Homo sapiens: one gene and its partner. The protein of the gene in region 1 interacts with the protein of each later gene in a pairwise test. Each region holds a gene or a part of one and is shown on either strand. Other genes may lie near its edges.

Region 1 (7,927 bases):
GGGGAGGAAAAAAAAAAAAGAATGTCCAGGAATTCATCACTCGGCAGACACTTGGCCCAGGCTTTATATACAAGATCTCACAATGACAACAATTTCCAGACACTGATGTTTTATGATTTCAAGGGGTGGAACAAAGAATATCAGTGTCTCTGCCCTGGGGATCAACCTGGGAGGCCCCAGGCTGATTCTCAGAGCTGTGGGGTTCGGCACTCACTGGGTCCCAGGTTCCCAGCTGAGCAGTTGTTCCCACAGGTGAGGTCTGAATGCTCACAGCCACCTGGTGGGGCAGACATGCAGATAACTCCATTCTACAGCGGGGGAGACTGAGCCTGGGAGGGAGGGAGGTGCCCACAGTTCAGGTGGCTGATGACCTTAAGGACCTCCAGGGGGCCCCAGCTTCTCACACACTGCATGCACCATGGACCTTGGGAACAAGATCTCAGGCAACAGTAACTCCATGGAAACTTCCTCCCAGGCGGCTTCTGGTATCATCCCCACTTTACAGAGAAGGAAACTGAGGCTGAGAGAAGTGTAGTCTCCAGTTCTGTCTCGCACGTCAGCGGCAGAGCCAGAGCTGGGCCAGCACCTGCCCCGGAGCCGGTGCCCTCCTGATCACCCGGCGATATGGCCTCTTAGGATGCTCCCCACAGCCCCACGGAGCTCAGAGGTCCCTTTCTCAGAGGAGGAAACTGAGGCTGAAAGAGGTTTCGTCAATTCCCGAGGTCACACAGGTGATGAGTGGAAGAACCAGGGGTAAAATTTAAATCTCTTTGGCCCCCGAGCCCCGCTCTTCACCCCCAAGTCTACCTAGGGACCCTAGAAACAGAATGAGGCTGGTCTCCTGCCCTGCTCCCACTGCAGGCCAGGCCTGCAATATGGCTCATCTGGCTGGATCATGGTGACAGCTTATCATTGTCCCCACTTTGCAGAGGAGGCAACCAAGGCCCAGAGAGCCCACATGAGGGGTCCAAGGCCACACAGTGAGAAAAGAACAAGATTTAAACGCAGACTCGGCCGGGTGTGGTGGCTCACGCCTGTAATCCCAGCACTTTGGGAGGCCGAGGCAGGTGGATCACCTGAGGTCAGGAGTTTGAGACCAGCCTGGCTAACAAGGTGAAACCCCATCTCTACTAAAAATACAAAAATAAGCCAGGCATGGTGGTGCACGCCTGTAATCCCAGATACTTGAGAGGCTGAGGCAGGAGAATCGCTTGAACCTGGGAGGTGGAGGTTGCACTGAGCTGAGGTCATGCCACTGCACTCCAGCCTGGGCCACAGAGTGAGACTCCGTCTCAAAAAAAAAAAAAAAAAACCAGACTCATGTGGCTTCATGCCAGCCCTTGGCAAGACCCTCCCAGCTCAGCCACATTCAGGGCCCTCCCTTGTCAGCCACTCCAGCCTCTCTCTGCAGCCTCTGTTGGCTCCTCTGTCCAGCGGGGACAAGGAGCTGGGTGGATGCACCCACTGCCGGCCATGAGACCTGGGGGAAGCTGGGATCCACGGCACAGTTAGAGCCTGAGCAAATCAACTCCGTGATCAACAATGTGATCCCTGAAGCATCCAGAAATTCACACACAGTGGGCAGCCCTGAAGTCGGACCTCACTCTGTGGCAATCACAGCCCTCGCTCGTTCCTTTTGGGAAAACCGCATCACACCTCCTCTCTGTGGCAGTCTGTCTACCTGCTTCTACCCTTCTGCCCTTCATTCATTCATTCATTCCCTGCATATTCACTGAGCACTCACTGTGTGTCTAGGACTGACCCAAGCACTGGGAATACAGCCGAGAGCAAGACAGACAAGGCCTCAGCCCTCCTGACAGGGGCAGACGGGAAACAAGGTGTCAATCAAGAGTTTTGCAGGAGACCGGCTGGGCGCAGAGGCTCATACCCATAATCCCAGCACTTTGGGAGGCTCAGGCGGGCTGATCACTTGAGGTCAGGAGTTCGAGACCAGCCTGGACAACATGGAGAGACCCCCCATCTCTACTAAAAATACAAAAAATAGCTGGGCATGGGGGCACGCGCCTGTAATTCCAGCTACTCAAGAGGCTGAGGTGGATGGACTCCTTGGACCTAGGAGGTAGAGGTTGCAGTGAGTGGAGATCGTGGCACTGCACTCCAGCTTGGGCAACAGAGCAAGACTCCATCTCAAAAACAAACAAAAAAAAACTTTGCAGAAAGAAGATCAGAGAGAGTGACTGTGCTGGAAGCTAAGAGGGCGGGGGCGTGAGGATTCCCCAGTCCCGAAGTAGAGCCTGGGCTGAAAGCCAGAGCCTCTGGGTGCATTGAGGCCCTAAGTGATCAATTCACCAGCACAGTGATCCCCAGTCATCACATTCCTGGCTCTCTCGGGCAGGCCCAAGTCCACCCGGAGTTCTTCCTGTTGCAGCCACAGACCTGGGCTCTCTGCGTATATGTCTGTTCCGTCCCTTGTCTGTCATTCATCCATCCATCTATGCAACACATATTTAGGCAAATCCCAACCACACGCTGGGCACTGGGGAAAAATCAGTGCTCAACAAGGGAGGGAGACAGGCCATTTGTGGATCATCGCGCAAATGAAAATTTCAGGCAGTGCTAAGAGTTTTAAAGAACATCCAACAGAGCGGTATGCTGAGGAGTTGCCTTAGAACCACGGTGAGAAGCCCCCAACCCCGGATGCCGTCAGGGCTTGAGGGGACCCCCTTGCCCACAAGCCACCCTGAATCCTCCCAATGCCCCGAGTGCCATCAGCCAGTCCCTGCTGTCTAACCTTACTCCCTCCTGCTGCAATCACAGCCTAGCCCCGTTTCCACAAATGCCAGGACGGCACCTCTGTTTTGTGTGTGACTATTCAGCAAACATCACCTGCAGAGCACGGCAAACACAGCCACGAATAAGATAAACCCAACTTCTCCCCTCTCTTTTTTCTCCCCTCCTCGGTCCCCTCCGCCTCTCCTGCAGACGCTCACCTTCAGAAAGGAGGGACGGGGCTCTCCCGTGGCCCAGGACCTAGACAGAGCGGCCAGACAGCAGAGGCTGAAGGAAACACATCCCCTCACATGGGGAGATTTTAAGCCTGGGCCGGGAGTGATGTCATTTGTCATGGCCTGGAACTCGGAGGGTAATCCCGGCCAAGGTGGGGGACTCGACTGGGCACCAGGAGGTGACATTGGCTGGGAGGGGGAGGGGCACCCGTCTGCTTAATCCCCTCCTCTTCCCCCCATGACATCTTGGCAATTAGGGCTGATGGGGAAGGGAGGCCCCAGCTCCTGCCGGTGACCATAAGCCCCTACTCCTCAGGGAAGTCCTTCCTTAGGTCTAACTGGTGTCTCTCCAGCTTCAGCTAGTATCCCAAGAGAGAGGCATCAAAGAGGAAGGAGAGCACTGTCAGATGGTCCTGAGAGATCGTCTGAAAAAAGAGAGGCACGGAGCTTTCGGGATCCCTCTCCTGGGTCCCCCTTTCTCTCCACAACAGTCTGTCCGACAGCTAGTTTATCTCTGTAGTGCCTCATTGGTCTCGGTTTCTGCCTCAGTTTCCCCTGTTTCTCTCTCTTTGACTTGGTCAAGTCTTGTCTGTGGCCTCTCTGTCTCTGTGTTGTCAGACATGATATTCTCCTCTTTTTGGGGGCGGAGGTGGCAGGGGCTGCTTCCAGCACTGAAAATAGGCAGACTTATTAGAAAGGGTGTTTTGTTTTTCTGTTTTTGGTGGAGTTTGGGGTTTGGGATTTTTTTCTTTTTTTTTTCCTTTTTTTTTTTTTTGGTTGAGACAGGGTCTCACTCTGTCGCCCAGGCTGGAGTGCAGTGGCATGATCACAGCTCACTGCAGCCTTGACCTCCTGTGCTCAAGGGATCCTCCCTCCTCAGCCTCCCCAGTAGCTGAGACTTTACAGGCACATACCACGATGCCCAGCTAATTTTTTTATTTTCGTAGAGATGGAGTCGCTCTATGTTGCCCAGGCTGGCTTCAAACTCCTGGCCTCAAGCAATCCTCCCACCTCGGCCTCCCAAAGTGCTGGGATTGCAGGCGTGAGCCAACAAACCCAGCACTCACCATCTCTCTACACACCATTGGTCTTTGTCTGGCTTCTCTGTACCTCAGTTTCTTTTCCTGTGGGCCTTAGGCTGTGGCATTTCTGCCTACTTTCCTGAATACCACTCTTTCATTCTCCATCTGCTCCTCTCCGTCCCTGTCTCTGTTGATAAACCTGCATTATCCCCTTGGTCTCTCTTATTCTTTTTCTCTGTGTCTCCCTGTCTATCTTGCTCTTTCTCCCCTCTCCCTCAGCCTCCATGTCCTTCTGTTCCTGTCTGTCTGTCCCTCCCTTTGCTGTCTTTCTGCCTGTCCACCTGTCCCTGTAACTCCAGCCTCATCTCTGTCCCTCTGTCCTCGCTTATCCTCTGCAGCTCCAATCTCTGTTCCTCCTTCTCTTTTTCCCTGTCTCTCTCTCTCTCTCTCTCTCTCTCTGATTCTTGCTTCCCCTCTCCCTGGATTGCCCTTCATTTCTGTTTTGTTTTGTTTTTGTTTGGAGACAGAGTCTTGCTCTGTCACCCAGGCTGGAGTGCAGTGGCACCATCTCGGCTCACTGCAACCTCCACCTCCCCGGTTCAAGCAATTCTCCTGCCTCAGCCTCCCGAGTAGCTGGGAGGATTTCCTTTCATTTCTGTCCTTCTCCCTGTCTTGGTACCTCTGTTGCTCTGTATTTCTGATTTTCCTGGTCTCTGGCCCTCTTTGTGTCTCTCTCCTCTCGTCTGTCTCTCTAGATATTAATATGTCCCTGAGCTCCTGGGTCCCACACGGGTCTGTTTCACTTCCCCGTGCACCCAAACACGCACGCAAGCACACACACACACACACACACACACGCCCGGTAATCCCTCCTTGTGGCTGGGTCATTGTGTCTCAGCCATAAGGGGCCCTTTCTTTCTCCTCCTCCCTCCCCCAAACCCCCTGCTAGGAGAGATTAAGGCTACAGGCCTGGCTGAGGAATCAGGACAGGTCTCATTAGCTTGAAGAGCCAGGGATGACAGCAAGAGAGGGAGGGGCCGTCTGACCCTCGGCGACCAGTCCAGAGGCTCCTGATGGGAGAATCCAGTCCTGGAACAGACCCCCTGGCCCTGCAGCAGGGAAGGAAGGTCAGCTGTACAGGGAGAGGGAGGAGAAAATAACTTCCAGCGGGACAGAGAAGGTGTCAGCAACTCTTAAATCACCTGCCCTGGGGAATCTGGGTACTGGTTGGCTCCTGGATCCAGAGTCCTTCCAGGGGTGGGGGTACAGAGAGGTGGGTTTCAGCTGGTCCTGCACATGGCCCTGGGATCAAGTAAGCTGAAATCAAATCCAAGCACTTCTTCTCTGAGCTAGGTCTTCTGAGGCAACTTGCTTTCCTTCTCATCTCCACCCAGTGGCTCAGGCAGAAATCTGGGCACTCAGCCTGGCCCCTAACCCCTTTCTCCTCACCACTTACATCCAATCCATCCATAAGTCCTGTCATCTCTTCTATCAGATCATTATCCTACTGAAACAATATAAAGCACTGCTGGAAGAAATTAAAGGAGACTCAAGTCAATAGTGAACTATACCATGTTCATGGTTTAGAAGACTCAATGTTATTAAGAGGTCAATTCTTCTCAAACTAATCTTTAGATTTACTGCAATCCCAATCAGAATCTCATCAGGATTTTTCTGTAGAAATTGATTGTCAAACTGATTCTGAAGTTGCTATGGAATATAAATGATCTAGAATAATCAAAGCAGTCTTGGAAAAATAAAACGAGTTGGAGAACTTACGCTACCTGACTTTGAGACTTATTGTAATGCACATGATTGCAGCTGGAAAAAGTGGGGTTAAGGATTAAGAAAATGTGGCACATATACACCATGGAATACTATGCAGCCATAAAAAAGGATGAGTTCATGTCCTATGCAGGGACATGGATGAAGCTGGAAACCATCATTCTGAGCAAACTATCACAAGGACAGAAAACCAAACACCGCATGCTCTCGCTCATAGGTGAGAATTGAACAATGAGAACACTTGGACACAGGGTGGGGAACATCACACACAGGGGCCTGTTGTGGGGTGGGGGGCAGGGGGAGGAATAGCATTAGGAGAAATACCTAATGTAAATGATGAGTTAATGGGTGCAGCAAACCAACATGGCACATGTATCCATATGTAACAAACCTGCACGTTGTGCACATGTACCCTAGAACTTAAAGTATAATAAACAAAAAAAGTGGGGTTAAATTCTGGGGACAGTCTGAAGATGTATGGAATACTGGAGGATCCTTGGATCAGGTTGTTGATGAGTTTCACTCCAGGCTCTACTGCAGGATGGGGGTGCTCCTCATACCTGCACCCCCTTAGCTCCCTAACACATTCATCCTATTTAATCTTTTGCAAAACTCTTACTGACATCTTGTTTCTTGTCTGCCCTTGTCAGGAGGATGGGGCCCTGTCTGTCTTGTTCTCAGCTGTATTCCCAGTACCTAGGACTGTCCCAGACACACAGCAGTAAGTGTGTGTTCAATAAATGTGAAAGAAATGGATGGATGGATGGACGGAGGGATGGATGGATGGATGGATGGATGGAGGGATGGATGGGTGATGGATGATGGATGGATGGATGGATGGATGGATGATGGATGGATGGATGGATGGATGGATGGGTGATGGATGGGTGGATGGATGGATGGATGGGTGATGGATGGATGGATGGATGGATGGATGGATGGGTGATGGATGGGTGGATGGATGGATGGATGGATGGGTGATGGATGGATGGATGGATGGATGGTGGGGCAGAACCAGGTAGAGACACTGGCACAGAGAAGTGGTGTGATGTTTTCCCAAAAGGACCAAGGGTCTGTGATTGCAGCACTGTGAGGTCAGACTGTGGGGCTGCCCACTAGTGTTTGAATCTCTGGATGCTTCAGGGATCATATTGTTCCTGAGTTAATTCATTCAGGCTCTAACTGTGCCATGAATCCCTGCTTCTACCAGGTCCCATGCCTGGTAGTGGGTGCATCCACTCAGCTCCTTGTCCTCACTGGACAGAGGAGCCTACGGATGCGGCAGAGAGAGGCTGGCAGGGCCAACAAGGGAGGGCCCTGAACATGGCTGAGTCGGGAGGGTCTTGCCAAGAGCTGGCATGGAGCCACATGAGTTTGGGTTTAAATCCTGTTGTTTTCTCACTGCGTGGCCTTGGGCCCTTCATATGGGCTCCTGGGCCTCAGTTTCCTCCTCTGCAAAGTGGATACAGTGACAAGCTGTCACAATGAGCCCTGGGAATCCCATGGGAGCAGGGGAGGAAGCTGACCTCATCCATCTTCTAGGAATCCCAGGCAGACTCGGGGGTGAAGAGCGGGGCTCGGGGGCCAAAGAGATTTAAATTCTACCCCTGGTTCTTCCACTCATCACCTGTGTGACCTCGGAAATTGACGAAACCTCTCTCAGCCTCAGTTTCCTCCTCTGAGAAAGGGACCTCTGAGCTCCGTGGGGCTGTGGCGAGCATCCTAAGAGGCCATATCACCTGGTGATCAGGAGGGCACAGGCTCCGGGGCAGGTGCTGGCCCAGCTCTGGCTCTGCCGCTGACGTGGGAGACAGAACTGGAGACTACACTTCTCTCAGCCTCAGTTTCCTCCTCTGTAAAGTGGGGATGATACCAGAAGCCGCCTGGGAGGAAGTTTCCATGGAGTTATTGTTCCCTGAGATCTTGTTCCCAAGGTCTGTGGTTCATGCAGTGTGTGAGAAGCTGGGACCTGTGGGCACCTCCCTCCTTCCCAGGCTCAGTCTCCCTGCCTGTAGAATGGAGTTATCTGTGTGTCTGCACCACAAGGTGGCTGTGAGCATTCAGGCCTTACCTGTGAGAACAACTGCTCAGGTGGGAACCTGGGACCCAGTGGGTGCCGAACTCCACAGCTCTGAGAACTAGCCTTGGGCCTCC
Region 2 (7,025 bases), on another chromosome or scaffold:
AGATCCAGCAGTGTCCACTATAGGACCCCCTCACATAGGGCATGTGGGAGAAGCCAGGCACCCTGGGCTTGAGACAGAGTCATGCCCAGCTCTCATGTCCTTTCCTGGGATAATGGATGAAGGTACGTGTGTGTGCATGTGTGTGCAGGAGGGAGGACTAGGGAATAGTTTGGGACCCCAGGGCTTCTATCTTCCCCCAGTTGGTCTCTCCAACACCACATATCGGCCTCTACTCCAGTGTGAAGAAAGGCACCAAGCACAGGAGGACTCGGACCTGAGCCTTTCCTTATTGTTAGCACTTTATTTGAGTAGAAGACACCTCTACTGTGTCAAAACTAGTACTTGGAGCTCTTGGATTTGCTGTTTTCTCCATATTTCTCTTCCAGTGCTTTCTGCAAGTTCAGGTTCATAGCATTTTTCTGGTGCCACCGCCCTACAGCGAGCAGGAGAAGAGCCAGCACAGATTAGATCATCTGGCAGTCTCTGGAGTTGCCCAGACCCCAGGGATGACTCGTACCTCTTCCAAGTCCACCCCGGCTCTGTCTCCTGCTCTGGTTTCTCTCTGACCCTTAGAGCCAACACACCCTGCTGGTGGAGGACAGTCCCTGCCTCCCATCACCCGCAGCTCCTCACTTACCCAGATCATCCGTCTTCCTGCCATGCCAGTGTTCTAAGTCCCTCACTGATTTCTCAATGACCTCTGGTGTGTAAGAAGCCTTCATGAGGCTCTTTGTCTCCTCAGCAGCCCCTGTAGAATACCATGAAGAAACCCCAAGTGCCCAATTCAGTGGCAGTCGGGTACTCCATGGCTTATATTGGGTGTCAGTTTCCTCTACGGATGGTAAATTGTGGAACGGAAGGAGAGTGGGAAGGGTTTCAAAGTAAAGTCGTTTGGGTTCAAACCCAGACTCCATTATTTATGGGTAGTATAGCCTCAGAGAAATTTTTAACCTCTCTGAGCTTCAGTGTCTTCAACTATACCAAGAAATGAGATTTTTTTGCATGGTTGGAAAGACAAAATTATTGGACATTCATCAAGACATCTAGCAAGTGGCAACTAATACCTGTAACTTAGGAAAACTTATCTCTGTTTTCAAAATTCAAACATGCACAAGCAGATACGTTGCAATGATCAAGAGTCAGCAGAAACACCAAAGGACAAAATCTCCCAAATTAGCAAAGATTTGAATGATCAGATACAGAATACAAAATAAGTATATTTAGGCCGGGGGCAGTGGCTCACGCCTGTAATCCCAGCACTTTGGGAGGCCAAGGCGGGTGGATCACGAGGTCAGGGGTTCGAGACCAGCCTGACCAACATGGTGAAACCCCGTCTCTACTAAAAATACAAAAATTAGCTGGGCGTGGTGGCGGGCTCCTGTAATCCCAGCTACTCAGGAGGCTGAGGTAGGAGAATTGCTTGAACCCGGGAGGCGGAGGTTGCAGTGAGCCGAGATCGTGCCACTGCAGTCCAGCCTGGGCAACAGAGAGAGACTCTGTCTCAAACAAACAAACAAACAAACAAAAAACCTATATTTAATGATTGAAACCATAAGAGAGAATAAAAATATAAGCAAAGAGTAAGAAACCATCCAGAAAGAGCAGATAGATTAGTAAGAGAAGCAAACGGAATTTCAGAAATGAAACACATAATAATTGAAAAAAAATTAAACTCCATGGCAATAAGATGCCTGGGACTTGCTTTGAAATAATCTTGGGTGGGAGTGGATGGGTGGGAGAAAAGATGAGACAAGATCGGCTATGTATTAATCATTGTTGAGGCTGAGTGGTATATGCAACATCTATTTATAAACTAAGTTCTCTTCTTTTCCATAAGCTTGAAAATTGCCATCATAAAAGTTTAAAAAGAAATTCAATTAACAGATAAAATAGCAGATCAAATAAAGCTGAGAGAAAATGGTAAACTGGAAGATATACCTAAAGAAATTAATATTAGGATGCAATACAAAGAAATAAAAAGATGTGGGCTGGGCGCGGTGGCTCACGCCTGTAATCCCAGCACTTTGGGAGGCCGAGAATATATATATAAATTCTATATATACATATATCTAAATCCTATATATAATACATATATAAATTCTATAAAATAATAACATGTAAGCTGAGGTGGAGGTCGGGAGAGTAATTAAAGTTAATTAAAGTTTTTTTTTTCTTTTTTTTTTTTTTGAGACGGAGTCTCGCTCTGTCTCCAGGCTGGAGTGCTGTGGCTCAATCTTGGCTCACTGCAACCTCCATCTCCCAGGTTCAATCTACTCTCCTGCCTCAGCCTCCTGAGTAGCTGGGATTACAGGCATGCGCCACCACACCCAGCTAATTTTTGTATTTTTAGTAGAGACGGGGTTTCACCATGTTAGCCAGGATGGTCTGGATCTCTTGACCTTGTGATCCGCCCATCTCGGCCTCCCAAAGTGCTGGGGTTACAGGTGTGAGCCACGGCGCCCAGCCAAAGTTAAAGCCTTCTAAGGCCCTTAGTGTTCAGGAAAACACAAATGCCTAGATTAACTTTATAATTTGTTAATTACGCATATAAAAATGTCAAAGGTAACCACTCAAAGAATAAGAGGAGTAGAAAAGAACAAATATCAGATTGAGAAAAATAAGAAAGCTGATGTAAATCCAAAAAGAGAGAGAAAAAGAAGCCACAAAGAAAAAGCAGCACACCATCCTGGCTAACACGGTGAAACCCCGTCTCTACTAAAAATACAAAAAAAAAAATTAGCCGGGCGTTGTGGCAGGCGCCTGTAGTCTCAGCTACTTGGGAGGCTGAGGCAGGAGAATGGCGTGAACCCAGGAGGCGGAGCTTGCAGTGAGCTGAGAGCGCGCCACTGCACTCCAGCCTGGGCAACAGAGTGAGACTCCATCTCAAAAAAAAAGAAAAGAAAAGAAAAGAAAAAGCAGCACAAATAGAAAACGAAAAATAAGATCATGGAAATAAACCCAAATAGTCTATATCAGTAACGAGAATCAATATGAACGAATTAAACCCATTCGTTAAAAACCAGATGATGACACTACAGAAAATGTTTTCCAGGTATGTATCATTGAAGGCATATTTAAAAGGACACAAAGAGAGGATAAACATGGAAGAACAGAAAAAGATATACCCAGGCAAACACTAACCAAAAGCAGTCTGGTCTAACTATATCAGGTGAAATAGACTGTAGGGCAACGGCACGATGAAAAACAAAAACAATTGCAATTCATTAAGGTAATGTAATGATTCTGAACTTGCTACATTGAAATAATCTCAAAATAGATAAGGCAAAATTGACAGAACCACAGGACAAATGGACAAAGCTGCTATTATAGAGGGAGATTTAAAGACACATATTTTAGTAACTAATAGATCAAGCAAAGCATATTAATAAGGATTAGAAGATTTGTGCAGAAATTATTAACAAGCCTGTTCTATAGACAAATGCAGAATCCCTTACCCAAGAGATTGTTATTATTATTATTATTATCATTATTTTGAGAGGGAGTCTTGCTCTGTCACCAGGCTGGAGTGCAGTGGCGCGATCTCCGCTCACTATAACCTCCGCCTACCTCCGCCTCCCGGGTTCAAGCGATTCTTCTGCCTCAGCCTCCTGAGAAGCCATTACAGGCGTGCGCCATCACGCCTAGCTAATTTTTGTATTTTTAGTAGAGACATGCGCCATCATGCCAGCTAATTTTTGTATTTTTAGTAGATATAGGGTTTCACCATATTGGCCAGGATGATCTCGATCTCTTGACCTTGTGATCTGCCTGGCTCCGCCTCCTGAGATTTTTTTTTTTTTTTTTTTGAGATGGAGTCTTGCTCTGTCACCAGGCTGGTGTGCAGTGGCGCAATCTCGGCTCACTGCAAGCTCCGCTTCCCGGGTTCACGCCATTCTCCTGCCTCAGCCTCCCGAGTAGCTGGGACTACAGGCGCCCGCCACCGCGCCCGGCTAATTTTTTGTATTTTTAGTAGAGACGGGGTTTCACCTTGTTAGCCAGGATGGTCTCGATCTCCTGACCTCATGATCCACCCGCCTCGGCCTCCCAAAGTGCTGGGATTACAGGCGTGAGCCACTGCGCCCGGCCTGGAGAGATTATTCTTAAGCACACACAGATCATCTACAAAAATCACCATCTACTGGGCTCTAAAGCAAATCTGAACAATTTCAAAGGATTGAAATCATTACAGGGCTGTGTTCTCCAATGACAGTCACATCAAGCTGGGAGATGGAATCCACCCCAAAGACAAGAGAGCAAACCAAGAAAGAGGAAGACACCAAATAGAGGAAATCAGAATTCCAACAATGGAAAGAAGTGAAAAAAAGAAAATCCTTGGTAAGCTGGTTCAGGGATCCCTGGATACCTGGACACAGAGGGAAAAGGACAGGACGTAAGCTACCATTCTGCCTGCTCTGTGACTCAAAGACACAATGTCCAGGTGAGCCCAGCCAAGGTTTTGATTTGTATGTGGCTTGTCCTTACCATGGGCTGACCCTCTACTCTCCCCTCCCAGCCCTGCTGCATGGAGCAGATGAGGACCTTCATGTTAGCCCACAGGGGTGTTCTGCTCTGACCTCCTTCTGAAGCTGGAGCCACGGTGAGTTGGGAGGCAGAAAATACACAAAGGGCCACTCACCGTGGCCATATTCCTGCAGGCCATCCCACATGGTTCCCCCGCAGCCCTGTCTGTGGGAAGCCTATACACCCAGGACTCACGGCCATGCCAATACTCTCCCCACATGAAGTTCACCAAACTCTCAGGACACCCAAAGCCAGACTAAGACCCAGAGCCAGCTCCATTTTCCCCCATGCTGTTTCCATGGTAGTGAATAAATTTCATGAGATCTGATGGCTTTATAAGGGGAAACTTCTTTCACTTGGTTCCCATTCTCTCTTGTCGGCCACCGTGTAAGACGTGCCTTTCACCTTCCACCATGATGTGAGGCCTCCCCAGCTACATGGAACTGTGAGTCTATTAAACCTCTTTTTCTTTATAAATTACCCAGTCTCAGGTATGTTTTTATCAGCAGTATGAAAACAGACTATATTATATTTAATGATGTAATGTTAGAATCAAGAAGGAGATAAGGATGCCTGTTTTTCCTGCTTATAGACACCATTGTCCTAGAGAGGTCAGCCAGATGCTGATATAAAGGTAAGAAAAGCCTAGTGTTTAGGAATTTAAACTCTAGCCTCTGACTGGCAGGGTTTAAATCCCAATTCTGACCGTCCCTATCTGTGTGGCCTTAATTAAGTTATTTAACTTTTCCATGACTCAATTATTTTTTATCTGGAAAAAAAAATGGGAATTGTAGCATTTACCACATGGGATTCATGTGCAGAATAAAATATATATATAAAGTACTCAGAGCAGTACCTGGCATATGTTAAATACTATGCATAAATGTAGCCATTATTACTATTCAAAAGCACTCCTAAAGAATCAATAACTAATTACTGGAATTAATTGGTGAGCTGCATAAAGCTTCTGGATACGAGATTAATATACAAAAACAAAAATTGCATTTGTGTATACGGTATCAGCAGCAAAGTTAGAAAATATAATTTTAAAAAGATATCATTTTCAACAGCAGCAAAAAAAGAGATTCTCCTGAGTAAGTCTAACAAAAAAACCTGCATGATGTTTATAGAAAAAAAAAAATCACAAAATGTTACTGAGAGATATCGAAGGAAGACTTAAATTAATGGAGGTATATACCATATTCATATATTAGAAAATTCATTATAAAGCTGACAACAGCCCTTAAATTGAGCTGTAGATTCAATGTATTTCCAATCAAAATCCCAACAGGGTTTTTCATGGAAATTTCTGTTTATTAATAACATTTGTATGGGAGAGTAAAGGGCCTAGAAACCCAAGACATTAACTGGTGATGGTGGTGGAGGGGTGGTAGTGGGAGTATTGCCTGACCAGATATCAGGCTACTTATAATACTTTGGTGATTAAAAATGTAATATTAGACCAATGGACAGAATAGAGCCTGAAACTGATCTATGCATGTGTCAAAACCTGATGGATAACAGAAGTACCACTGCAGGTCACCGGGAGGAAAGATGAGCCTATTCAATAAAAGGTACTGAGGCAGTCAGTAACCCACATAAAGAAGGAATTGAAAATGAATCCCTACTGGGGAAAGATTTCTGGTGTTGTTGTTCCATTATTTTGAGGGCTGGGCACACAGATGCCCAAGGAATGCCTGAGCTCGTCATCTCACTCTTTATACAGCTGGGCAAGCTGCCTAAAGTTTCCTCAAGCCTCAGTTTTACTACTTTCTTAAATGGCTAAAACTCACAAAAGCCATCTACAGTTTTTGAAAATGAATCCCTACTTCATACTAAAAACAAAAATCAACCCCAGGTGGATTAAAGAGTTAAATGTGAAAAGCAAAACTAAAAATTTTAGAAGACTGTGTAAAAGATGATCTACGATTTAGCATAGGATAGGAGTCCCTCAACCTGCTCCCCCTGGCAGCTTCTCTAATTCAGTAAATAGCCATCTCATCCTTCCAGTTGTTCAGGTCAAAACGTTGAAGTCAACGTTAATTCCTCTCTCACCCCAAAATCTATTCATTAGCATATTCTTTTCTCTCTGCCTTATACAAATATCCAGAATCCTACTACATCAGGCCACCTTCACCATTACCTCCCTGAGCTGCTATATTGCACAATGGTGCCTTCCAAAATAGCGCAGGTGCACTAGCCCAGCTTCCAACACCAAGCCACCATCATCTGTCCCATCTGGAGTTTTGCAGCTGCCTCCTACCAGTTTCCCTGTTTCTGCCCCATCTCCCTATGTCCATTCTCCCCATAGCAACTGGAGTGAGCCCTTAACCTGAGCCAAACAGGGCCATTCTCCTGCTTAAAATCCCGGCTTGGTTTCTCATCTCACTCCGAGTAAAGACCTTCCAGCAGGCTTCACGACCCAGCCTGTTTCCTCTGATGTCTTCTGCCTCACTCCTGTGCAGCCATACCAGCCTCACCAACCTCAAACAGCAAGTATAAAG

The links. The genes of interacting proteins can lie anywhere in the genome.
Region 2: the proteins of CRX (region 1) and CIMIP4 interact in binary tests that used the Homo sapiens proteins (3 or more experiments, as listed by UniProt).

What each region holds. Positions count from the first base shown.
Region 1 is NC_000019.10:47,817,035-47,824,961, reverse strand, and holds the start of CRX (cone-rod homeobox protein), read right to left. Parts: upstream 3,026-7,927; 5' UTR 2,952-3,025; intron 1-2,951. Other genes in the region: TPRX1 (tetra-peptide repeat homeobox protein 1), read left to right, coding at 5,911-5,990, 6,424-6,494. UniProt on the Homo sapiens protein: Transcription factor that binds and transactivates the sequence 5'-TAATC[CA]-3' which is found upstream of several photoreceptor-specific genes, including the opsin genes.
Region 2 is NC_000022.11:36,990,844-36,997,868, forward strand, and holds the end of CIMIP4 (ciliary microtubule inner protein 4), read right to left. Parts: intron 749-7,025; coding exon 638-748; intron 434-637; coding exon 336-433; 3' UTR 282-335; downstream 1-281.